2 separate regions of the Homo sapiens genome follow, and region 2 is linked to region 1. Evidence: fine-mapped expression QTL. Tissue or cell type: whole blood. Region 1 holds a variant in brackets; the other region holds the start of a gene. All regions are shown on one strand. Distances are between the middles of the regions.

Evidence for each region.
Region 2: it holds the start of CLIP4, and the variant in region 1 is fine-mapped to the expression of CLIP4 in whole blood (INTERVAL, PIP above 0.99).

Annotation. Positions count from the first base shown.
Region 1 is chr2:29,153,582-29,166,121 of GRCh38, reverse strand. It overlaps CLIP4 (CAP-Gly domain containing linker protein family member 4), which reads right to left. Exons shown (of 16, transcript NM_024692.6): 10 at 9,679-9,768; 11 at 8,775-8,918; 12 at 5,655-5,789; 13 at 2,168-2,291. Among named protein-coding and RNA genes, the nearest start is that of CLIP4, 44 kb to the right of the region's middle. The variant C/A (reference allele first, on the strand shown) is at 5,732.
Region 2 is chr2:29,110,564-29,123,103 of GRCh38, reverse strand. CLIP4 (CAP-Gly domain containing linker protein family member 4) reads right to left here and starts at 7,689. Exons shown (of 16, transcript NM_024692.6): 1 at 7,439-7,689; 2 at 1,583-1,730. The coding sequence starts at 1,715. It overlaps LOC105374386 (a long non-coding RNA gene), which reads left to right and starts at 8,360. Exons shown (of 3, transcript XR_007086265.1): 1 at 8,360-8,435. RefSeq lists silencers at 7,039-7,278, 7,469-7,828.

The DNA.
Region 1 (12,540 bases):
CGCTTATAGAATGCCTAGCACAGCATAAGTGCTAAAAGACACTTAATAGTATTTGATGATGATGAATGAGACAATCAGAAGATGACAGGAAGACAGCTGGATTGAGATAGCAGTTCATTTAGAGACAGCCCTATTTTTTTTTTTTTGAAGAAGAGGGGGCTGCTTTTTAAATGCACCACCTTAAAGAAAACCAAATAGAAGGCAATCAAAAAAAAGTAAAAAACGTGTGCTCCAGAAACAAAGCAAGAAGGAAAAGATGAAACCATGAGAAAGTGGCTTGACAACGTAAAGGAGGAGGAAAAAGCTGTTACAGCATAAAACCACTGAACTAGGAATCAGATTGGATCAATATTTACCGTGCCTAAAATATGCCAAACTATGTACTCTGAGTAATCAAACATGAAAAGCAGAATCCCAGTCCTCATGACTAGGAAACAAACAAAACTTGTAAGAGACTGCTGCAATGTTTTGATGAAGATATGCCCAAAGTAACATGAGAACACAGAAGATTCACTGGTGACTCAGCATGCATTTTACTCCCAAACCAATTATTTACAAGATGTATGTCCTGACGAAGGTCCCTGAAGCTCTTCTAACCGTTATAGGGTTACGGTTAAGGGCACACATGCTGATACTAGACTACCTGGGTTCAAATCCCCAGCTGGGAGCACAGCACATGTCACCCCTTGTGACTTACTTTCCTCATTGAGGGAACATGGTGCCTGCACCACAGGGTTACTGGAGAGCAGTAAACAGGTTAATACATGAAGGGCCCTGCAAACAGACCCCAGCATGTATAAGCACTATTCGTAGTTACTGCTTCCTTTTCTTCATTTATAAAACAAATACAAAAAAAAAAGAAAGAAAGAAAGAACAAACCATCTAAAAGCAAGGGCTTACAGAAAAAACAATTACAAAGTAACACACCTGGGCTGAGTCCAGCTCCTTGGCTAATTAGCTGTATGACTTTAGCTAAATCACTTATCTCTTTGAAACCCGTTTCTTCATCTGCAAAATGGGAATGATCCTAATAACTTACAGCTCGCAGGGTCTGGGGGAATTAATGAGGTATGCATCTAAAGCACACTGTACAGAGCCCACCCACTCACTAAATGCTCAACAAATGTTTGTAATAGTTATTATTCTCCAGCTTACCTGATCAATATTAGGATCAAATGAAACAACACTTAAGTGAAAATACTTTATAAACTACAAAGTATTGTATGTTAAATTCTGTTATCACCATAAATATGAAGAAAATTATGTCAAGTATATCATAGAAGGAAATTAATACTAAACAAATATGTAATGATTCACTCAGAAAAAGAAATTGAGGGAGAAATGGATGTAAAACTTCAATCTGCCAGGAGATAGTCACAACAGTCTAGTTGTAAGGGAAAACTAGACAAGACTCCCAGATTGCGATCGTAGGTCTAGTCTCATGAATGTGATTATGCCATATATGTTATCTCTCATTTAAAGATTAGTATCCCATTTCCCATCCGCTAAAAGGCACACCAAGCAGCTTCTTCCAGAGCATAAGAGAAGCCATTTCACATAATGATACCTGGAATTTTATGAGGACTTTGTTTCTGCTCAACTTATTTTTTAAAACCGGATGAGGTGGTATGAAAGATACTATCTTAAGAAGAAACACCAAGGAGATATATTATATAAAAATCCTTGAAGTTTCACTTCCCCCAAAGATCTACTGCCTATCTATTTTTGAAAACTAAAGAAATCAGAGGAAAAAGCCATTTTGGTTCCATTAGGTTTGTAGGAGAATGAATGGGGTGCCTGCTGGCAGGAAATTTAATGTAGTTAGGATGTGACTGAAGCAATCAGAGAGCATTTTTACTTTTGTTTGCATGACAGATTAAGCTTGCTGCTCTCACTGTACTTAGCTGCAAACGCCACTTCTAATAGCCTACACATACTCATAGGGTTTGCAAATGAGGAATAAAGGAGGTTTTTAAAATTGCAAATCCTCAGCAAAGCAAATTTAGCTTTCCATGAGCCTTCTCTCTGAAGAAGGTGGTTGGTTAACCCCTTGAAAGAAGACATGAGCTACAATCAGAGCATATCTTTAATATAAAATTAGTGTCTCTATTAACCACTGCAGATTACAAAAAGTTTCTGTAAATAAACATAAATTTCATTCTCTCACCTTTGCACCCTGGATGGGGGAGCAAATATTCCATATCTTGGAGAACAGCTAAAATACTGCACACCTCCAACTGAACCATCATTCTTGCCATGGGGTTTTTCAAGCTCTATACCATACCAATATCCTAGAACATGAATATTGCATTTCAAAAGCATCTGTACTTTATCCAAAACTCTTATGCTACTATACAAAACCAAAGTCGAGGTGTTTTAACATTTCCATAAATGACCAAAATGAGGGAAGATCATGATACTCATTAAGATTTCAAATTATAAAATTGTAAACTTTGAAAATTCAAAAAGTGAACAGGAAAAACATTTTACAAGCATAATTGCAGAGCAGTACATTAAAGGAGGAAAATAAAATGCACAAACACAAATTTGGCAAGAATTGGCAATTGTGTAAACAGTATATGACCAAAATATATCTAAAAGCTGCAGTGAAAAACTGTTCTTGACTTGGTAATATAGTGTTTCAGTGAAAGAAGTGAAACATAATATTGAGATTTAAAAATCATAAAATGAACATGCAATCTTTTCATCTTACTCACCTAACATTAGAACACCACAAACAGTGCTCAAATAATTAAAGAAGGACAAAAATATTATAGAAAATACCACTAGACATCATGATGAGTGCTTTTTCTTTTCTTTTTTCCACCCAAGGTAAAAAGAAAAATCTTTTTTTTTTTACCTAAATGAAAAGGTTTAGGTTAGCTAATAGGGAGAATTATTTTAAAGACTTTTTGTATTTAAAAGGACCTACTCTGAAGGAAATAACAGGATTTCCTTTTCTAGACAGCCTAAAATTAAAGTAGCAAGGTTGCTTTAAATGTGGTTTTACCCAATATAAGGTAAATGGACACAAAATCCTAAAATAAGGATTTTCTAATTGAGGGTGCCTCAAGACCAATTAGAAGTATCTAGTAGTCCATTTACTTGTGATTTAAAAGGAGTGTACAGTAGTAATTGGATTTGGTCTCTTATAATCAGTATCAAGTAAAAAAACAGGAGATAGATATCAAGAAACTTATTACAAATTACAAAAATAGTGTTTCTTCCAGATTACTAGTTCAAAGAGTTAATTATATGCCTTCTAAAAAACCAACTCACAAGTTCTTAATTTTTTTCCTCTATGTATAAAAAGATGATACCTGAGTCCATTTCCTACTATGTAATACAAGTAATGTTACAAAACTATTGTTAAGCTGCACTAACGCTCTGAACATAGGTCATCACATTTCCACATGTCCTAAACCAGGTTAGTCTGGTTGCCACTGTTATTTCTCAGTGCTACAGTTACAATTTTCCAAGTTTTACTTGCTTCTGCCTTTTATGCTTTCCTATATAATTTTTGCATTTTCCCATTTTAATTTACCATATAATTGCTAATGTTAACCATGTAACTCTTGGAAACATGTAGCATACAGCAGAAATACATATGACAAGTGTTAACAATAAAGACTACACTTTGGCAGTGGTGTGGTATGGATATCTTCCCATTTAAATGTTAATTTTCTTTCCAAGGTGGCACTGATAAAAAATGCTGATGAGACCAAATATGACCTCCCTCAAATCTAGATCTTATAACCTCCAAATACTTAAGATATTACCACTGTTCTGTAGCAGTGATTAATTTTTAATGCTACTACTTCCTTACAGGACAGAATGTTTTTAACAAAAAAGTTTCCACTTTTTATTATATTTGCTTACTACTTCCCAAATTTCTAAATGCTTTACATTAGGAATTTAAAAACTGAAATCAACCTAAAATGAAGAATTATATCCAAAGAATCAAACCATTCTATCTTGGTTTAATAACATCAGAGAAAGGGAACTCAAAAGACAAATAGTAATTGTAAAAAAATAACCTACCTGTGCGGTTAAGTTTTTATTTGAATCCTATATTAAGTATATCCTAACTAATCTCAATTACTACCTGGAGACCTAAGAAAGTCATGAATTATAAAACACCTAACTCAAATCACGCAGTTGGCTTGCAATTATAAGTGGTATTAGTGAAACAAGACTGTGTTGGGAGACAGTCGCCTATGGTCCTGTCATGTTTCCGCATGTCTTATGGGTAGAGGCAGTGACTACTTTCGTTCTAGACTACCTTTTCATAAACATCTGTATAGGGGACAGCCTTGGAGGATAGAGCTAGCATCTCCCACCAGAGCAAATGGCAGGGATGTGTACCATAAGTTCAAAGATTCAGATTCCCTAAGCTCTAGGGTCCTCTCCTGGAACAAAAAACACTGGCTGTGCAGGTGACACCTGGCTCGCTCGCTCTCACCCTGTGGGAATTGGCACTAAGGGAATAATAGTTCAAGAAAATGCTGATACTCTGGCTACTGCTATGACTGTGAGTACTAGAGTGCTTTGTCTCAAACCTGTGATGACTCTAGTACTCACAGTATCTTCCACCAACATCTATGAAACTGTGGCAGGCGAATTTGTTAGCTTGCAAATAGGGTAAAATCTCAGATCCCTCATAGTTCTTGGCTAAATGCTACAAACTTTTTTTTTTTTAATCAATGTTCTAGATAACCTTTTCCTAAAATGCTGCAATGCCACCATGTGTTAAAATAGCATATTGCTATCTAAACATACAAACTTGGTTTTGTTCAACCGACTTCTGTTTAAAATTATAATCATTGACAACACAAAAGAAAGCAATCTGGCTGGGCACGGTGGCTCACACCTGTAATCCCAGCACTTTGGGAGGCCAAGGCGGGCAGATCACCTGAGTTTGGGAGTTCGAGACCAGCCTGGCCAACATGGAGAAATACCATCTCTACTAAAAATACAAAATTAGCGGGGCGTGGTGGCGCATGCCTGTAATCCCACCTACTCGGGAGGCTGAGGCAGGAGAACCGCTTGAACCCAGGAGGCAGAGGTTGCGGTGAGCTGAGATCATGCCATTGCACTCCAGCCTGGGCAACAAGAGCGAAGCTCCGTCTCAAAAAAAAAAATAGAAAGTAATCTTTACTTTTGGAAACAATGTTACGTATAGATTGGAATGAATATATAAATACACAAACATGTATTTTTAAGGGCCCCAAAAACATGTATTTTGAGCCCTTTTGTGTGCTTTTCTCTGCAAGCCACTCTTTTAAAAAGGTATACAATTAACTCATTATTTACTACTTATTTTAAAGATTATCCGTAGCAAAAATCTAATCCTAAAATGTTTGCCTGTCACTTAGCACACCCAGCAATCAGTAAGAGTAAAATTGGAGAATGACAACTAATTTTTAACACCGACCATTTAAAACACAAATGGCAAGAAAAAAATGTATGGGTAACCATCCACGTGAGTAAACAGTCTGAGTTTTCATCATCATTTCACATTTTCTGTACTATAGCTGCCATCCACAAAAACTGTTCATCAAGATTTCTCTACAATTAAATTCTATTTACATGTAAAATTTTAAACCTTTTGTACTCTAAAGAATTCAAGTTAAGAAAATATGCAGATGAGTTACCTGGAGCGAAGTTTGTTGTCCCAAAGAACCTAATGGTGCCCAGTCTCTGTCCTACCACTAACACTCTCTCTCCGAGG[C/A]GGAGTTCCCCCTCGCAACGGCTATTATTTGCTGTAGATGTTGCTGAGGAATTCAAACCTGTTTAAGTCAGGGAGGGATACAGGGGCAGGGCAGGAAAAGAGGAGAAAAAACAAAGGGAGAAAAACTCAAAAAGCACATTAGCCAAAAAATCACACTAGGTATTCTAACTAGTCTAGTTAGTTGGTGATTTTGATATCTGATGCCTTTCATCACATAAGTCATCTACAGTTGTGTTTCTCACATGTGAGGTCAAGCTGCTCAAAGGAAATGTGAAGAGTTTCCTGGGAAAATTACTGCCATGGGAAATTCACAAAACCTGATCCCTGGTAAACTACCAACTCTTCCAAGATTGCCTGCAGCATCTCTACTAGAACAGGGGTCACAGCAAACTGTTTCTGCAAATTGCTGGACAGTAAATATGTTAGGATTTGCTAGCCATACCACCTCTGCCACAACTATTGAACTCTGCTGTTGCAGCATGAAAGTAGATATAGACAATATATTTTTTTCAAATGTGCATGGCTGCATTCCAAAGAACTTTATTTACAAAAACAAGTGGTAGGTCAGATTTGGCCCATGGGCCATAGTTTGACAATTTCTATTCTACTAAAATACTAGAATTATAGTATTAATAGTTCACTTAGACTCAGTGTAAATTATATAAAAAGTCATGTGATTTGACTTTTTTTTTTTTTTTTTTTTTTTTAAAGAAACAGGGTCTTGCTGTGTTGACCAAGCTGGTCTCAAACTCCTGGGCTTGAGTGATCCTCCCACCTCAGCTTCCCAAAGTGCTAAGATAACAGGCATGAGCCACTGTGACCAGCCAAAAGTAGTGTGATTTGAAGGTTAAATTGCTATACGGTTCTAATTATCCTAAAGTGATTTTGTTATTAAGAACAAAACCACTGCCCTGTCAACCTGATTCAAAACTAAACCTTGAAATGCCCACTATTAAACATAGAAGTCCTAGAGAAATATGATCTAGAAAGCTGTTCAAATATAACAGCTGAAAGAGAAGAAGTGGGTGCTTGAGCCTTGTCCCATCAGTACATAAACAAAGATTTGAAGAGCTGCCATCTGAGAGGGAGTAGAGAACTCTGGAGGAGGGCATGGGATGGAGGGTAAGTCATACTGTGAAAAAAGAAGAAATCAAAAACACAGCAACTAAACAAGGAAAATAAACCCATGGAGAAGGTCTGGATTATACCAGTAAGTCCGAGGCCCTCATCATAACCAATATTCTATAGCACTTCATAGTTTACAAAGTGCTTTTCCTAAAAATTATGCTGAAAAATAAGATACAAACTCAGGAATTAACTAAGACACACTGTTAACAGCCAGTAAGTGGTACACCTAGATTAAAACCAAGACTCTGTGATCAGAAATCCTCAGGCCCGTCCCCTTGTCGCCTGTAGACAATGAACCAAAGATGGCAAGTTCAACAGTGGGACACAGGCTGGGCATGATGGCTCATGCCTGTAAATCCCAGCACTTTAGGAGGCCAAGGTAGGAAGATCACCTGGGTCCAGGAGTTGAAGGCTGCAGTCACTATGATTGCAACACTGCACCCCAGCCTGGGCGACACAGCAAGACCTTGTCTTTAATAAAAAATAAAAAGTAAATAACAATGGGATATGATGAGGCCGAGGTCCCTACCTTTCCCATTCCCCGAATCCTTTATTTCCACTCTTCTTTCTCTAATTTTTTAACCTAACTTTCCATTATTGTTCGTTCTCTGCAGTCTACATCTCCCTCAAATGCAAATCTATAAAACAAGTGGAATATCTACTCACTAGAGAAACATGTTTTAAGTACATGTCTCTGGGGTTCCCAACACAGACTTTCCCATATCTCCCATTCTCGGCCCATCTCCCTCTTTGAAAGGTCCTCTTTCTCACTCTGATAACTCTCTTCATCTTCACTGTTGTTTAAGTCGACATAACCCTCAAATTTATTTTTTTAAATGGTAAATATATAGGCACGCTAGACTACTTTGTTTAGAAGGTTAAAAAAAAAAAAGTAATTCCATACCCATGTATAAATTTTAAAATCAAGTAAATGTCAAAAGTGCAAATACCAAATGAAGGGGGCCTTAAAATGTGAATGAAATTTGGACAAACAGGATGGCTGTGTCAGCACTGTACCTTCTCACCTCTGCTCCTCACAACATAAAGAAAAACTGGTTGGGGTATGGAGAGAGGAAGCCACTCAGAGAATAAATATTCCAGGCAAACAATTTCAGGGAAAACTTTCAGGTTCTCTACTTTTAGGGTCCCAGTTTTTAGGCTTATTATGTCAATGTTATTGTTGAGAGCTTTGGAGGTTTCTTCCCATCAAGTATTTTTTTAGAAATCTGTCATGAATATTTTCCATAATAAAATGTTGGTTCACTACAAGAACTATTAATAGAAGCACTAAAAAAAGAATCTGGTAATAAAGAGGTTCATGAAGAACGTATTTTGCCAAGATGGCTTTTGCCTTTCTGGACAAGTTCGCTATATAGGCAAATAAGTGAACTGCAACAGACAAAATCTATGTCATTTCGAAAAGAAGTCTGATAAAGTGTTTTACGTATCTTTACAAATAACTGAAGAAATGTGGACTGAGTGAGATTATGCAGGTTCACGGCTAGTTAAAAAGCCATATCAAAACTGGCTGGTATTGCCATCCTGGGAGAGGACCCTCTGACCTTCTCCTAGGTTTTAAGCAAACATAGTTTTAAAACAATCACTTGAATAAAAACACAGAAAGCATGCTTTTTAAATATGAAGATGACACAAAGGCCTGTGAAGAAGCTAAATTCAGATGAGGTAAAACCACTAAGAATGAATTACATGAAAATAAATGCAAAGTCTTATATCTGAGACGGCAAAACAAAGAGACCTTAAGGCTTAAGGTTCGGGGGAGGTGGGGAAGAGTAAAAGTAGTTCAATCTGATTGAAGTAAAGGGTTCCTTCTACACATTTAAAAAGAGCAAATCTACTTACAAACAAACCAAGATAAAAAACACCAAGAAAGCCTGGTTGAAAAAGCCATAGATACCAGCACTGGCTCTGGATGAAAGGGAAGGGCTTTTGCTCATTGTCTTCTTGTTACTGCTGATTGCATTCTGTTTCTTGGGGTAGCTCTGTCTGTGTTCCAAAGAAGATGTAGAGGAGCAGCTGCTGACAGATCCAAGCAGGGCAACTGTAACAGATAAAGAACGTGTCAAACGGTGGAAAATAAGATGTGGACCAAGAAGCAGCTTGTCAAGGCAAATCTTTCTGAAATTCTTCATTTAACTTCCTCAATTATGGATTATCTAGTGTCAAATTAAATGCCTAATTTCATCCAAATAGCAATTGTAGTTTATATATAAAAGATTTTATAACACAAGCAATAATATTTTAAGGATTCCCACGGTAAGATCACAATCTTATGTAAGAGGTATCACCACATCAATTGATGTGAACTGACTACCTAATCTAATGACCATCAGTCACCTCTCACCTTAGATGACATAGTAGAGTCCCCTTTTATACAAAAATTAAACATGATATTAATATGTTTTAAGGCAACAAAAGTTTAATATTAAGACATTTTGAGTTAAACCAGAAGGCAAGAAGGAATACTCATGCTCAATTCATCTAATGATTTGATAGCTAAAGGCAAATGAAACATTTGTGTAGAGTGCTCTATATTATGGAATTTCCGTTTATTTTCTTAAATCTAGTCCAGTAGTTATCTAATTTAAGTAAAAGAATCATAATGCAGTACTTTACACACAAAAAATATAATGTATATAGCTTGCTATGAGCTGCTTCAGTGATTTCCAAGTTTAATTTTTACTATAATTTTTCCCTTGCCAACTTTAAAACTTAACCTCCATATAAACTGTTTTCCTACCATATTTTAAAGTTCCATCAAAAGTTAAATTTTGAGAAACAGAGGTTACAAGGTATATTACCATCTTTCTCTGTCACAGTTTTAAGTTCTTCACCAGGAGGCAATGAAAGTGTTGACTCAGAAGCACTATCTTTTTTTGATGTCATTAATCCTTGGACACAAAAATAAAACACTTTAAGCAAGAATTTTAACATTAAACATAAAATGTATTTTTTAAAGTACATGCATCCCTCATTATCGAAATCTCACTCACTTCTGAAAACATATTGGATAACAACTGCACAGACATATGAGGACATGTTTTGGTATAAGCACTAGCATACGAGAAGGAGACAGTAACAGTGGCTACAAAGATCAATTAATGTCTCATCAAGATGATCACATTCTGAGATGGGTCCTAAGGGACAGGTCAGATTTCTTCCTGAGAATACTAGCCGTATGGTCAGGAAGAACTGAGGGCAGGCATTCTTGATGGACAAAAAGAAAATCTTAAGACACAGAAAATAGTGAGTAGCTTGGCTGGAACAGAGTACTTATGAAATGTAGGAAAAGCAAGACTAGACAGACAGGTCACAGTAACACTTCAGACAGGGATGCCAGTGCCCAGCTAAGGACTGAGAACTCTTCTGTAAAGAAGGAGCCTCTGCTGGGCTTTGAAAAGGAATACTGGCATGAACAGAGTCTAGTTAAATAACACTCTCCTGACAGCAGGGCTGCAACGAAACCACAGCGGGAGAGGCTGGAAGCAGGGACCAGTCAGACATTATTAGCATAGTCCAAGCATGAGAGCCTGAACTCCAACAGCAGAAACTGAATGAAGAGGGTGGAGAGGAGACATTTTGTGAAGGCAACCTGAAGAGTAAATTTTTATTTTTCATTACATTTTTCAGTTATAAAATATTTTCTTTAAAGTTTTTATAAAAAATAATACAAGGAGATTCCCTGTACATTTTGACTAGGTTTCCTCCAAAGGTAATGTTTTGCAAAACTGTGGTATAATAAGTATAATATGTCAACCAGGATGTTGGCAGTGATACAATTCACCAGTCTGAGATTTCCACAGTTCTGCTTGTACTCTTGTGTGTGTGTGTGTGTGTGTATACACTTGGGTGTATCATTTGGTTGTTTTTCATATCTTCTATTTCTTGGCTGAAACTTTCTTTTCATTTGTTTCAAGAGTGTTCACGTTTGATTCTTTTTTTTGTTCAGAAACAGGGTCTTGTTCTGTTAGCCAGGCTGTAGTGCAGTGGCACAATCATAGCCCATTGCAGCCTAAACTCCTGGACTCAAGTGATCCTCCTGCCTCAGCCTCTAGAGTAGCTGGGACTACAGGTGTGCACCACAATGCCCAGCTACACCCTTAATTCTTGGAGTGTGGTTACATTACTTAAAATCTTTATGTGTTCATTGCAATGTCCATGTCATCTCAAAGCTGCTATGCTTGGACTGTCTTTTTCCTTGTAAGAGGTGTTGACTTTTTCATATTTTGGGTAATTTTAAATTGTATCTTGTGTCTTTTGAATATTATGTATGGACACTGGAATAGGTCTTGTTTAAATCCTATGGAGGATGTTGACTGTTTCATTTTAGCAGGCAGTCAACCCATGTAGCCTCTGGGCAGAAGTTCCTGACCACCCTCTGTGCACTGTGGTTCTGATGTGGGTTCCGCTTCCGCAGCCTCTGCAATGCTGTTTGAATTTGTCTCATGTGCTGTGCAGCCCAGTAGTCAGGCTGGGACCCAAGCAGTGGTCTACCAAGGAGACCAAAGGCTTTGGTCAGATCCATGCATACACCACTTGCAAGAAGACCTAGGAGTTCACAGCCAAAATTGTGAGGCCTCTTTCTTGAGTCCCCTCCTCTCTATGATTTCCCTGACACTTCCTGCTCCTGGGCATCCCTTCCCGGTATTCTGAGTAGAATGTCTAAGCTTTCGTTTCCTTGCTCTGTCATACAATCCTGAGACTGATTGTGCCTCTGGGGCCAAGCAGTGAGAAAACAGAAGAAAAACCAATGTGGATTCCATCTATGTCCTTGGACCAAAGTTTCTCTGGTCAGAGACATGGATTTCCCTTCCTTGGGGTTTCGGGTGCCTGCCCATTCACAGCTGCCCATCCATACCACGTAGGACTGCCTGGGGACTGGATGGGAAACAAGGGAAAGAAAAGGCAAGCAATAAAGATAACAGGTGATTTCATCCACATTCTATCTAATAGGAGACCCCTTTTCTGCTCCTCAGACCAGAAATAGAGGGGGCTTCTCTTGGAGCTTTCTGTCTATATTTACCGTATACTTCTGGGCTTCAGGTTAAAAGGATGCTACTTATAATGCCACCAAAAAGTATGGAGTACCTACCAATAGACCTAACAAGGCAGATATAAAATACCTGTAGAAAAAAATTACACAATTTTGTTGGGATATTTTCAAAGGGCCTAATTAAACAGAAAGATATTCTAAACTCATAATTTAAAAACTGACTATTGTAAAGATGTCAGTTCTTTCCCATTGATTTAAGCTTCAACTAAAACATCAGATAAAACCTCAACAGAATTTTTAAAAGGAAACTTAACAGTTTATTGTAAAATGTATACGGAAGGGTGATTTATAAAAGCCCCAAATCAGCAAGACAATGATCAAGAATGAGATAGGAGGTTTTCCACTACTGGACATCAAGATTTATTTTTAAAAACTACTTATTATGGAGTGCAGTATTGACACAGGGATATTCAAATAGCCCAGTGGAACAGAATATAAAGGCCAGCCTAATTCTTGGACAAATTCCTTTCATCCTGGTAGAGAGCTTTCTACCTCAACTATTTACAAATTACCAAGTGTTTATTGAGCACCTGTTTTGTGCATTGCTACAGTGAAAACAACACTACAATTTACTCTCATGGTTCAGTTAAAGTTTAAAATTTTGCCGAGA
Region 2 (12,540 bases), 43 kb after region 1:
TATCAAACTAGAATCACTTGGCCAAAATTTCAGGGAGACCAATTTTGAGTCAACATACGAAAACAATTTTATTACAACTAAAGCTTTTTAACAATAAAATTAACTATTTTGTTAGTTTCCCACTATTGAAGACATGCAAGAGGTTAAATGGTTATCTGACAGAGATCCTGAAAATATGATGTCTACACAGGGAGGTGAGTGGGGAAAGGTTCATAAGAGTCTACAAAAACCTATAATTCTAAGACTACAATGCTTTTTTTTTTTTTTTTTTTTTTTTGGAGACAAAGTCTCACTCTGTGGCCCAGGCTGGAGTGCAGTGATGCGATCTCAGCTCACTGCAACCTCTGCCTCCTGGTTCAAGTGATTCTCCTGCCTCAGCCTCCTGAGTAGCTGACAATATAGGCGCACACCACCATGCCTGGCTAATTTTTGTATTTTTAGTAGAGACGGGGTTTCAACGTTTAATTCCAGTTATGCAAAATGTCAATATCCATTATTACCTTTCATTCAATGTATTTATTCAACAATCATTGAGCAACTAATAACAAATGACTATATTAGCCTTTTTGAGATAAACAAAAATAAAATGATTGTTCTCCATCCCAAAGCGCTACAATATAGGAAAGAAAATAAGACAATTAGAAGTCAAGATGGAGTGAGACAAGTATCATACCTAAGGTACAATGCACAAGGTTCAAGGTTTCCCCTGCATAACTGATTTTGTTATATCTGAAAATAAGCCCAGTTGATTACTGCAAAACCTGCAGATAACTCCCAAGATCAAGGCACAGGTTTTATATAATACTTCTGACGACTGGTCTAGGTAAGCTGCTAAAGAATCTGAATACAAAAAAAAAAAAAAAGAAACTTGGAGATGAGGAATTACTATACTACAACGAATATGACTAAAAAGACAAATTCTCAGTCCAATAACTTTATATCTACTAATATCTACTAATATGTAAAAATTGTATGATCTCTACCTCCAAAAACAATTTGAAATGGTGAACCAACATTTTACTTGAAAAACTCTAAACTGGAAATTTAACAATTCTATCAAATTTATCTCCTGGTTCCCTTTTATTATGGTTCTGGAGAAATAAGCCTAAATAGATGAGAAGTGGAATGCTTCTAAATTAACATTTTACAGAGGAGATGTAAATGGACCAATTTAAACATTAACCAATCTCATTTCACATTCCAGGGAAGGGTCTCTTACCCTCTTTGCCTAAGTACATGGCTTTTTTAGCAAGTCAGTATATTTAACCAAAATAAATACATCAATAGCAGAAGAATGCTAGATATCTAAGCACCATTGCTTTCTAAAAATAAAGTCCTCTAAATCCATCATGATGCTTAAAATGAACATTTTAACATAATATAAATGCTGACAGCAGAAATAAAGCATTTAGCTTAAGAAGCAGAAAAAGCAATAAGCAATTGTATTTTTGAAAAAGGAAAACTTTAGCAATTTTATGAAAACCATAAAAATGGTTCTAAGAAAGACTATGAGTGCAAAAAAGGCGTAACAGAGAAGTCAAGTTACCAGTTCACAGAAAATAAGCACAGCTACTTCACATACCACAGTCTGAAGGCATTGGTGCTGCAGAAATGGAAAAGATAACTGGGGTATCAGAAGCAGAAAATATAAATGGGTATCTTCCAAACAAAGGATTTCCTTCTAATGGAAAATCTGGAAGGTCCTCTATGGTCATCTTCTAGAAAGCCACCTATAATAAGAAAGAAAAAAAAAGTGTTTCTACTTTATTTGTATGCAACTTAGAATGACTGCCTTCAATAACTGCCTAAAAGTTATTTGACGTCAAATCTGCTGACATTTTCAGTAAGGATCTTTTATGAAAGGGAAAAAATTCCTTTTGGCAAAACTGTTGTTAAAAGGCATACATTGCTTCACACCACCTCTTATACCAGTCGGTAGCACATGTAATCTCTCTAGACAAAGCTCAAAAGGAATATAAAATAGGTGAAAACACTTTAAATGCTGAGCTAATCTAAATGGGTGAAATCCTCCTACTCATGTAACAAACAAGGGCGTATTAACCCTTGTAGATGGATCTTTAACTTCCCATAACACTGGCACAAGTTACATCATTTGTCATCCAATAGCTCATGCCATGTGCTCATCACATGAAGATAATCTACCTTAAAATGTTTCCATTATTTTCTATCCCAGAAAACTTTACTGAAAATTAATCATATCCCTCTTACAAATCTAAGAGTTTACTAAGATTGTTCAACTTAACAAGGTCCGAGGTATGTGAGTTCTATCCTGGCCAAAGATGGAAGCCATGCCTTTTAAAGCACATGGCTTATATTACCTCTTTTTCCCAGAAAACATGAGTGCTTAGAATAAATTTGCTCTAAATTAGACTTTGTACTACACCCTAGCCTACATCTCAGAAATGATGTAGAAAGCAGAGAAACTGCTAGTAAAACCAAACTTATGAAGCTAAAAGCCTTCCAGTTTCTTTTGTATCCGATCTTTACTATCTGAAGTATCATGAATTCCTGTTTTTAAAATGTAAGCAAAACATTATAAAACTAAATGAAAAATGAGTTTAGATTATTTCAGTAGAAAGCACAGAATAAAAATAGGTAATCAATGGCTTGATCTGGTAGTAGACAACACCATACTAGCTACTACTTAATGTGTGCTCTGTTCTACTTAACCAACCCTATATCTAACTCAATTATCCTTACCATCAGTTCCCCACTACAATAAAACAGTCATTTCATTGAGCTCACTGTTGTCTTCCTAACTTGATTCATGTTTTCTTAATACTGGCAGGAACTGGTAAAAAGTAGGAGGCTTTCTTTTTCCTCAAAAATCGTATGCTTATATGGATATAGATGTTATATATTAGGTAACCTAATCCAGTTGTTACTATTTTAAGGTATTCACATTTTCTTGGATGCTAAAATTACTTACCACCAAATACTTAGAAGCATTTTGACATTAACCTTGCCACATAAATAGGAAAATGACAAGTTCATGGAATTAGTGTTATAGAGCAGCGGTGATCTTCCTCAAATACTATCAATTCCAAACAGTAATGAGTATTTATTAAGGAACCACTATATACAAGACACTATTCTAGATGTTTCAGCAAATACAAAAATGAGTTAACAGATGGTCCATGCTTCTTAGGTAGTTTACAATCTATTAAGGTGAATAAAATACCACTAATAACTATAGATTATGAGGCAGAATGGGATCTGCTCCATCACATAAGTACCAGGAACATTTGCAGTTGGAGCTTCTAAGAATCATAAATGGTGAAGAAGGTATCATCTGTGATGAGTCTTGAATGATGAATAGGTATCAATATAAAAGGGGATCCCATTAAAAGAACAGTAGGCTGGAACTTGGGATATGACTAGGAAAACAGTCAGAGGTGAGGCTGTAAGGGCTTTTTAGGGCTGTACTGAGGAGCAAATACCTCATCAAAGACCAAACCACTTACTTTCATGAGCACTGGGAAACTACTGATTTTTTTAAAGAGAGTAACATGATTAAAGCTGTTTTAGGAAAATTAATCTGACTATAATCACGGTTTGGGACTCAGACATGTTTTTATACTCTTAATTCTTCAGCAAAAAGATTCAGTGGATATCTGTCTGAGTCGGTTAAGAGGAGTCACCACATGACTTCCCTTTCAAAGGGTGGAGTCTCCCATTCAAAAAAAAAAATTTTAAGTGATCCCCAGAGCACCTTTCATTTCCTTGTAAACTGTTGAGATCCTCAAAGATACGAACTCTATCGTACACAACTAGCAGTCACCACAGGAGCTAGAATAGTGTGTTACACATATTTAACTAATATTCAAAGCTTAGATTCAAAGTGGAAAGAGGATTCATGCAATCAGATGTAACCAGCTTCATTCTTTTACATATTAGATACTTCAAGTCCAGAAGAAGCTACAATATTACCTGACCAATGCAGTGAACATTCTTTGTATTTTGTCTTTGTTGCGTTTTTCTCTAGTTACATTTCCTTATTTTCGTGAAAAACTTAACATTCTACCTTTTGTCCTCCCAAAGGAAACTATGTACCCCTATAAACTTCCTTATAGTCTCAGATTCATTTCCTAAAAGCAATTCCTGGATCTGAAGACCTACAACACCTGGACTCTTGGTCAAATGTCTAAGTATACTGATCTGAACTGAGTACACACTTTCATTCCAAATCCAACTATGGTTAACTGGTGATAACTGATTATAAAGTAAGCCTCAGGTTAAAAATATATATATATATATTGGCCCTGCCAGGCATGGTGGCTCACACCTGTAATCCCAGCACTTTCGGAGGCCATGGCAGGTGGATCACCCAAGGTCAGGCATTCGAGACCAGCCTGACCAACATGGCAAAACCCCATCTCTACTAAAAATACAAAAAATTCGCTGGGCATGGTGGAGGGCACCTGTAATCCCAGCTACTCAGGAGGCTGAGGCAGAAGAATCGCTTGAACCTGGGAGGCAGAGATTGCGGTAAGCCGAGATCCCGCCACTGCAGTCCAGCCTGGGCAAGAAGAGCGAAACTCCATCTCAAAAAAAAAAAAAAAAAATTGGCACTAATCAACTGTCTACAGAACAGGTGCCTCTGATACTAACAATAGCTAGAATCAAATTCCCCAAACTCTGATTTCTATAGGAATTTCACCCTACTCATCACTCCAAGTTAGCTGTTAGCAAAAGCATCTTACATAACGTGGCTCAAATACCTTGTGATTTTTTTTCCAAGACTCCTTGGTCCATGCTTTAACACAGAGCAGTAATAAATGGGGATGTCCACTAGCATCTTCAGGCTGGTTCAGGACTGTCTGGACCCCATAAAAGGGCCTTACTGAAGCCAGGAGACTTCAGATTTGAGATATGGTTCAAGAGTGTCCTTGAGTTATTCAACTAATAGGAGACCAAAGCTGTGTCTACATTAGCTGGAATCATGAGGCCCTTTCATTCAATTTCCTGTAATACTTTGTTATGAGTCATCATTCTCCTGAGATTCCAATCTCACCACGTAAGTATTTAAAGCATAACTCCAATGATCCTTTTATTTGCTACCTACATAACATCTGTACAATCTACTAAACAGGTATTTACAGTACTGAACACTTAGTTGGCCTTAGAGAGAATTAAAAATTGAAATACCTGCCCTGAAAAAGCTATTTATGCATTTAACAAATATTTATTCAGTTTTTCTTACTAAGTTCTAAGCTATGCAAAGGTAAAGAAACCAGATCTGTCCTTGCCCTCATATAAATTACAGCCTAGTGTTGATTCCTACCAGAAAGTTGAAAGTAGTAAGTGCTATGACCAAGGACAGCTGAGTCCTATGAAAGCACAGATTCAAGAGGGTCAACGAAGGCTTCCTGGAGACTAATAAGTTAAAGCTGTGGCATCTGACCAGCTAACTACTAGCCACATGTGACTATTTAAATTAATTTAAAAATTGGCCAGGTGCAGTGGCTCATGCCTGTAATCCCAACACTTCGGGAGGCCGAGATGGGCAGATCACTTCAGGTCAGGAGTTCGAGACCACCCTGGCCAATATGGTGAAACCCCACAGCAAAAATTAACAGGGTGTGGTAGCAGGCGCCTGTAATCCCAGCTGCTCGAGAGGCTCAGGCAGAACAATCGCTTGAACCTGGGAGGCAGAGATTGCAGTGAGGAGAGATCAGGCCACTGCACTGCAGCCTGGGTGACAGAGCAGAGCGAGACTCCGTCTCAAAAAAAAAAAACAAAAACAAAAAAAAGAGAGAGAGAAAAGGAAAAGAAAAAAAATATTAAAATTTCAGTGCTTCCACTGCTCTAGCCCCATTCAAGTGGTCAAAAGCTATATGTGGCTAGTGCTACCATATTGGGTAATGCAAAAAGAACATGTTTCTGGTCTCCGAAAGCTCTTCTAAACAGCACTGAAGGAAAACAGTGCAGCTCACTCTCCAGATGAGAAAACAATATACAAATGCCTGAAACAAGACACAAATAAAGGTTAACACACTAAAGCAAGCCTATAGCTCCATAGTTCATTATAAATAATTAACAAGGGAGCAGTAAGCCTAAAAGTAACCAGAGTTTGAGGTTTGAACAGGGAGAAAGAGTGAAGTTGATTTTATATAATCTAAAGATCACTAGTTTCAAACACGTGTCAAAATTGGAGTTGTCATAAGCTATGAGAGACAACATAGGTCACTTTTTTAAAAGCCCTTGCTGGTGGGACTGTATGTGGTAAACACAAAATGTCTGAAATGAATCCTACAAATAGAATACCATGGGCTAAATCTTCTACAAAACAGAAGTAAACACATTCCATGCATGGCTAGACTCAATCTTACAGTCCAGATAGACCGTATCAAATGAAAGCATTTAAAAAATGCATCATATTTACGAAAGCAAAATAAGCTGGAACCAGGATGGTTCTCCAACATAAAAACGCAGACCAACTAGACTCCAGCAGGTTCAAGTCTCTGCTTTCCTCCCCAGTTGCTCAATGCCCCGCACCACGTGATCCTGTGCTGTTTAGACGACTCACTTTAAATTGTGCACAAGATTCACAAACAACAAACGTCAAAGTGAAAGTGAAGTACAATTTAAGTGCTGGCGGATGTTCCTGAGGAAGGTGTTTACTGAAACCTTTCAAAGGCGCCCGTTTTATACGATGATGGTGCTACAATATGAACGCAGTCTAGTATCTCAGAACATACAGCAAGTTATTGTCCCATAGGAACATCATCCTCTGATACGTATCAAAACACTGTCTCAGCACAGAGCTGAAAACCAGAGTCTGGATGACGTGAACAGCCTGACATCTAATTCAAAGCTCTACCATCATAAGCAGTGAATGGGATCCTTAAGGATGCGGGCTCAGCTCCAGCGCTCCTTTCAACTTCCCCTCCCAGGTGCGGATGGTTCAGAATTAAGGGATCTCAGGTAGCCAAGGACTGCAAGGACAGCCATTTGGTTTAGCTTTGAAGACCCACTGGCCAAAGGTTTCTCGACAATTTAATGCGCAAGGGGAGTCAAGTGAGAAATGGGAAGAGGCCGCGTTGGAAAGCCACTGCGCGTGCGGGGACTCTCGGGGCAGCCGCGGCTGGCGGTCGTGGCCCAGAGCCCAGCTCCGCCGCCGGGTCCCGCACACCCCGCGCCCCTCAACCTAAAGTTGGGCCGTCCGTCAGCGGCCGCCACGAGGAGTCCCCATCCCCGCCGGGTGGGCCGCTCCGCCCCGAGAAGGCCTCCCCGCGGCCAGCGACACCGGTGCCCACGGGAGGCGGCCGCGGGGCTTCCACAGCCCCCAGCGCCTCTGCGCGACCCTCCCGGGGCCACTGACCTCCCCGCGGGCCCCCAGGGCCGCCCACCCCGGCCCCAACCCCGCCGCCGGCCAGCCCGCGGCCCGGGGGGGCCCCGCGCGCCCCCGGCCCACCTGCCTCCTCCGGGTCCTCTCGGAGCGGCCGGCTGGGGACGCGGGGGCGCGGAGGAAAGGCCGAGAGGCGCGCTCCCGCCGGCGCTGTCTCCCGTGGCCGCCCACGGAGCCTCCCGCCGCGCCGCTCCACACCTCTCCGGGCCCCTCCCGCTGCCTCCCACGCGGGGTGGGCGCGCGCGCAGTGCAGGCGGCCGGGCGGCGCGCAGGCCTCGGCCACGGCCCCGCGCACGCGCTGGGGACTCGGTGGGGACGGAGGAGGCAGCGCGCGCCTGCGCTGGCTCGCCTGGCTCCCGCGCCCCCGCACTCCCCAGCAGTCAGATGATCGGGCGCACGCGGGGCCGCGACCCCGGCTGACAGCGTCTGCGGGGTGTCGCAGTGTTACCTCCCCCGCCGCGAAGCCAGGCGGCCCCGGCACGCCGTGCGTGCCCACCGCCTTCACAGCCCTCAGCCTCGCGGCCTCACGTCTCTAACCTGCGGCGCCCCCACCAGCTGCTGGGGCCGGGGACCTAGTCTTACCCGTCTTGGGCTCCCCAGAGTCCAGCCGAGCGTGGTCAAGAGTACATCCACCAGTTCCCTGCTGGCAGCGCTTGCTGTAAAAGGCCTAATCCGTGCTACACCCACGTTGAGCAATTAGTTCATATCTCCTGCGGCTTTGCTGCCTCTTCACCCACGTTTTCTCCTGACCCCTTCTCCGTCTCCCAAGGACCAGACAGGGTGAAACTGTGCACCTAAAGTCGTGAACTCTGACAGCCTGACTCTCTGTCATCTGGTAACAAGAAAGCGTTACTGGACACATAGTGAGTCCCCTTAATGAGGAGACCTAGTAAGACCATGACCGAAGTTTGAAACATGGAGACAACAGTGTTACATCTATCAGCTGTCTCTGAGGCCTACAGCGGCTGCTTCATAGAGGCTGTACTTCTGTGTTCAGCGCGCACAGTGCCTGGCAGGAACAGATGTTGAATGAACGTCTGTCAGTGTCTCTGCAAGAGCAGAGGTAAGCGCTCACCGCACCCCGGAGCATCTTTTCCTGTTAGAATCATTGATTTCAGGGACTGGAAAAAGCCCCCTTCCCACTTGCCTGAATCCTCCTTACAGTGTCTTCCCACCAAGCAGTGGTTGAACACCTCCACTAACAAGGAACTCATTACCTTTTAAGGCAGCCATTTAATCTTTGATCAGCCTTTTGGAAATTTTCTACCTTAGGAGCTAAAATCCAGCTCCCTGCATCTCTCCCTCACTGGATTTTGTTTCTGCCCTGGGGACTCTTAAGTCTGACTCCAATTCATCCAAGACACACATTACCTGTCCCTTAGGCTACTCCTGATATGACCTGGTCACAATCCCACTCACCAGCATGTTGAGGGATTCTCTTGGATGCATTCCAGCTTGTCCAGAGCTCTCTTAAATGTGATTATCAGGAATGAGTGGGTGGCCTGCCAAGTGCGGAGAGGAAAGAGACTGCCACCTCTTCTTAGGTCCTATGCTTAACAACATTCACCATATCAAAATAGTTGCTAGGAGCAGTCACATCACATTGTTGAATCGGGTGGAGCACACTTGACTAAAACCCACAATATTTGAATACATGACCATCCCTGACCCTGGTCAGCTGCCAGTTTCTCTGTCTCTGCAGGCTCAGCATCTGCGAGTGCTCTCAGAGATAATGTGACACGGATACTTCCTCCTCCCTCTGAAGAGTCCACCTCCCTTTCCCTGCTTTCATCATACCCTCTTCTTGTCTGACCCACCCATCTCTTTAGCTGGTTAAAAGAAGGAAGGCAATCTGCCCTTGGTTGGCTTCAAGCACCTATAAATGAGGCCAATTGTCATTGAACCACAGAAAGTCATAAAGATCTGTGTGTAACAGAGTAGCTATTGGTGAAGTTTCCAAACGTATACAGTTCACTTTTATTGCTGATTTAAATTATCCATCTGAAATACCACTATTAGTAGGTGACAAGGCATGGCTAGCTCAGTTGTTCTTAGTTATAATAAAGATCTCTGTTAGAACCAGCCAGGCCACTGGCTTTATCTGCTACACCCAAACACTGTATGATACATAGGCAAATTCCCAGGATACCAAGCCACCAGAGTCTCCCACTCACTTAGTTGCCTTTGTTCAAAAATCTGACGTTACTTCTTTATACCATCATCAAGAATGCAAGTGCTCGTTGGAGTCATGCTTCCTAGAATACCTCGTGACATACAAGCTTTAGAACCAGGTATTGCCCAGTTAACCAGAGTGAGACTGGACAATGATATGTGGCCAGAACTTGGAACTTGAACTATTCATTGGGGTGGGAAGGCACATGGGGATGTGGACCAACTGTAGCTGCTGAGATTCAATTCTATCTGGAGACACAAAGTTCCTGAAAAGTATAGCAATAATCCACAGCGTCAGGAGGTGATCAACTTACTGGTCAACATCACAGTGTGGAGAAAGGGCATTACTCACTGACCACTGTAAGGCACTTGACCTATGGAAATCTTGTCTTCACTTTACAAATGAAGAAGCAGACTCTGGGAGGCTGCGTGACTTGCTCCATGTAGCCAGGGGCAGAAATAAGATTCAAACCTAAGTCTGTCTGATCTGAAGGCCTATGTTGATTCACTACTTTGCTAACCTACACAGGCTGTCTTTGGGGGCATTAAAGACCCAGAATGGCTGCATAGAGCAGCATTCAGGAATTCAGACACTCGGCAGCAGGAAGATCTGTCAGCAGCTCTCAGGACCCCGACCATGATAAAAGGGTTAGAGGAAATAGCAAAAGAAGACAAGGTCACTGCTTTTACATGGACTGGATATGGGATGGAATATCATCAGTTTCTAATTTGTGAGTGTATAGGGGGCCTAGGCCCTTAGGACCATGAGAGACACCCAACTGTCAGAATTGGGGCACCAGATTGGAGTTCAACTAGCAGAAGTGCTTAAATGCAAAAGATCAGAGCACTGGGCAGAGCCCCTAATATCTTCCTGTCTGTGATGTTTACAGGTGTGATCATCAGCATAAAAAGCCCAACAGAATCAACAAAGTATTAGAAGTAATGTTAGCTCAGCAAGGTTGCCAAGTACAAGATCAGTTTCTAAAAATCAATAGTTTTGTCTACATCAGCAGTAAGCAACTGGGAAATGTAACAGACAATAAGAAACCATTCACAATAACAATAAAGTTTAACAAACTCTAAAGCATAATATCCAGGAATTAACCCAACAACTTGCAAAAACTTTAAGGAGAAAATTTTAAAACTCTATTTAAGGACATAAAATATTGAATAAGTGGAGAGATACAGCATGGATAGGATGACTTTACATTGTAAAAGTATCCATTTAGTCTCCAAAGTAAATGTTATGGCAACCAAAATTCCAGCAGAAACTAAATTTTTAGGGAACTCAACAAACTTACAAAATATATAAGGAGAAATAAATTTTAAACAGTTAAGTCAATTATAAAAACCAGAGCAGACCTGCCATGCCAGATATTATGTCATTGCCACATAGTAATAAAAATATTATGGTACTGGTATAGGAACACATAGAGCAAATAGGAAACAGAATGAAGAACTCAGGAGCAGACCCACGTATAAATGCTACCTCCATTTACACAAAGGTGGTACCACAGATCAATGAGAAAAATATAAATTATTTAGAAGACGGCATTCGGGAAACTGGCTTTAATTTATCAAGGAAAAATAAAGTTGAGAGCCCCATGTTCTGCCATATACAAAGGTGAACTCCAGATAAATGGCAGACCTACATATGATACAAAAGAAAATGCAGGAGACTATCTCTATAATGTGGGTTAGGAATTTACTTCATAAAACAGGTTTGCAAAAGCACAATCCTTGAAGCAAAAAAAAATTGTATGACTTGACTGCATCACAATTAAGGGTTCTGTTCAGTTAAGAATACCATAGAAAAAATTAACAGATGGCTGACAAATTGGAAGAAAACATGTGCTATGTTCAAAAGCAACTAGGGATTAATATCTGAAATGCATGAGGAACTTTTCACAAATCAAAAGGAAGTCAATATAAAATATTTTAAAGGCCAATATAAAAATGAGAAAAGTATAAGAATAGACAATTCACAGAAGGAAAAGCCAGAATGGCAAGCAAGCATTAAAGAGATGCTCAACCCCACTTGTAATCAGAGTGGGAATATAAAGAGTGTGACCCCATAGCCACCAATATGCTGGTCTATGTTTTAAAACCCGCTCCCCAGGGAAGGAAAAGTCCTAACGTACAGTGTTTGCCAATTTCCATGGTGCAAATACTCTGAGCACTGCCAGTTTCCAGCTACCAGTGTAGCTTGAGGTCACTGAACAAGAAGTTGGGAAGAAATGTGCTTTATCAGCTCTCATGAACTGTTTTCAACACACCACTGCTTCACCCACCAGCATGGCAGAAATCAGAAAGATAATCCCAAATATTGGCAAAGATCTGGGGAAAGATGCACTGCTGATGGAAATTTAAACTGGTAAATATATTCTGCAGATCAACCTGGCAGTGCTTAGTGAAAAAAATTAGCAGTATGCTTTATGACTCAGCAGTCACCCTCCTGGATATGCCTCAGAGAAACCCTTACAGTGGTTCTATAAGCACCTTGTTCATGCAGTTTCCAGGAAGTCAGTTTCTCATTCACTAGGTGACCTTATTCAGTCTATGGCTTTAAATATTGACCAGGCGTGGTGGCTCACACCTGTAATCCCAGCACTTTCAGTGGCCGAGGAAGGATCACTTGAGGCCAGGGGTTCAAGACCAACCTGGCCAACATGGTAAAACCTGGTCTCTGCTAAAAATACAAAAATTAGCCAGGCATGGTGGCGTGCACCTGTGATCTCAGCTTCTTGGGAGGCTGAGGCAGGAGAATTGCTGGAACCTGGGAGGTGGAGGTTGCAGTGAGCTGAGAGCATGCCACTGCACTCCAGCCTAGGGGACAGAGTGAGACTCCATCTCAAATAATAATAATAAATAAACAAATATCATCTCTGTTTTCCTGATTTCCAAATTTCTATCTCCAGCCCTGAACCTCAGATGTATATCCAACTGCCTACTCAACATCCATTCTACAGCATACATTACATATCACAAATAGAACA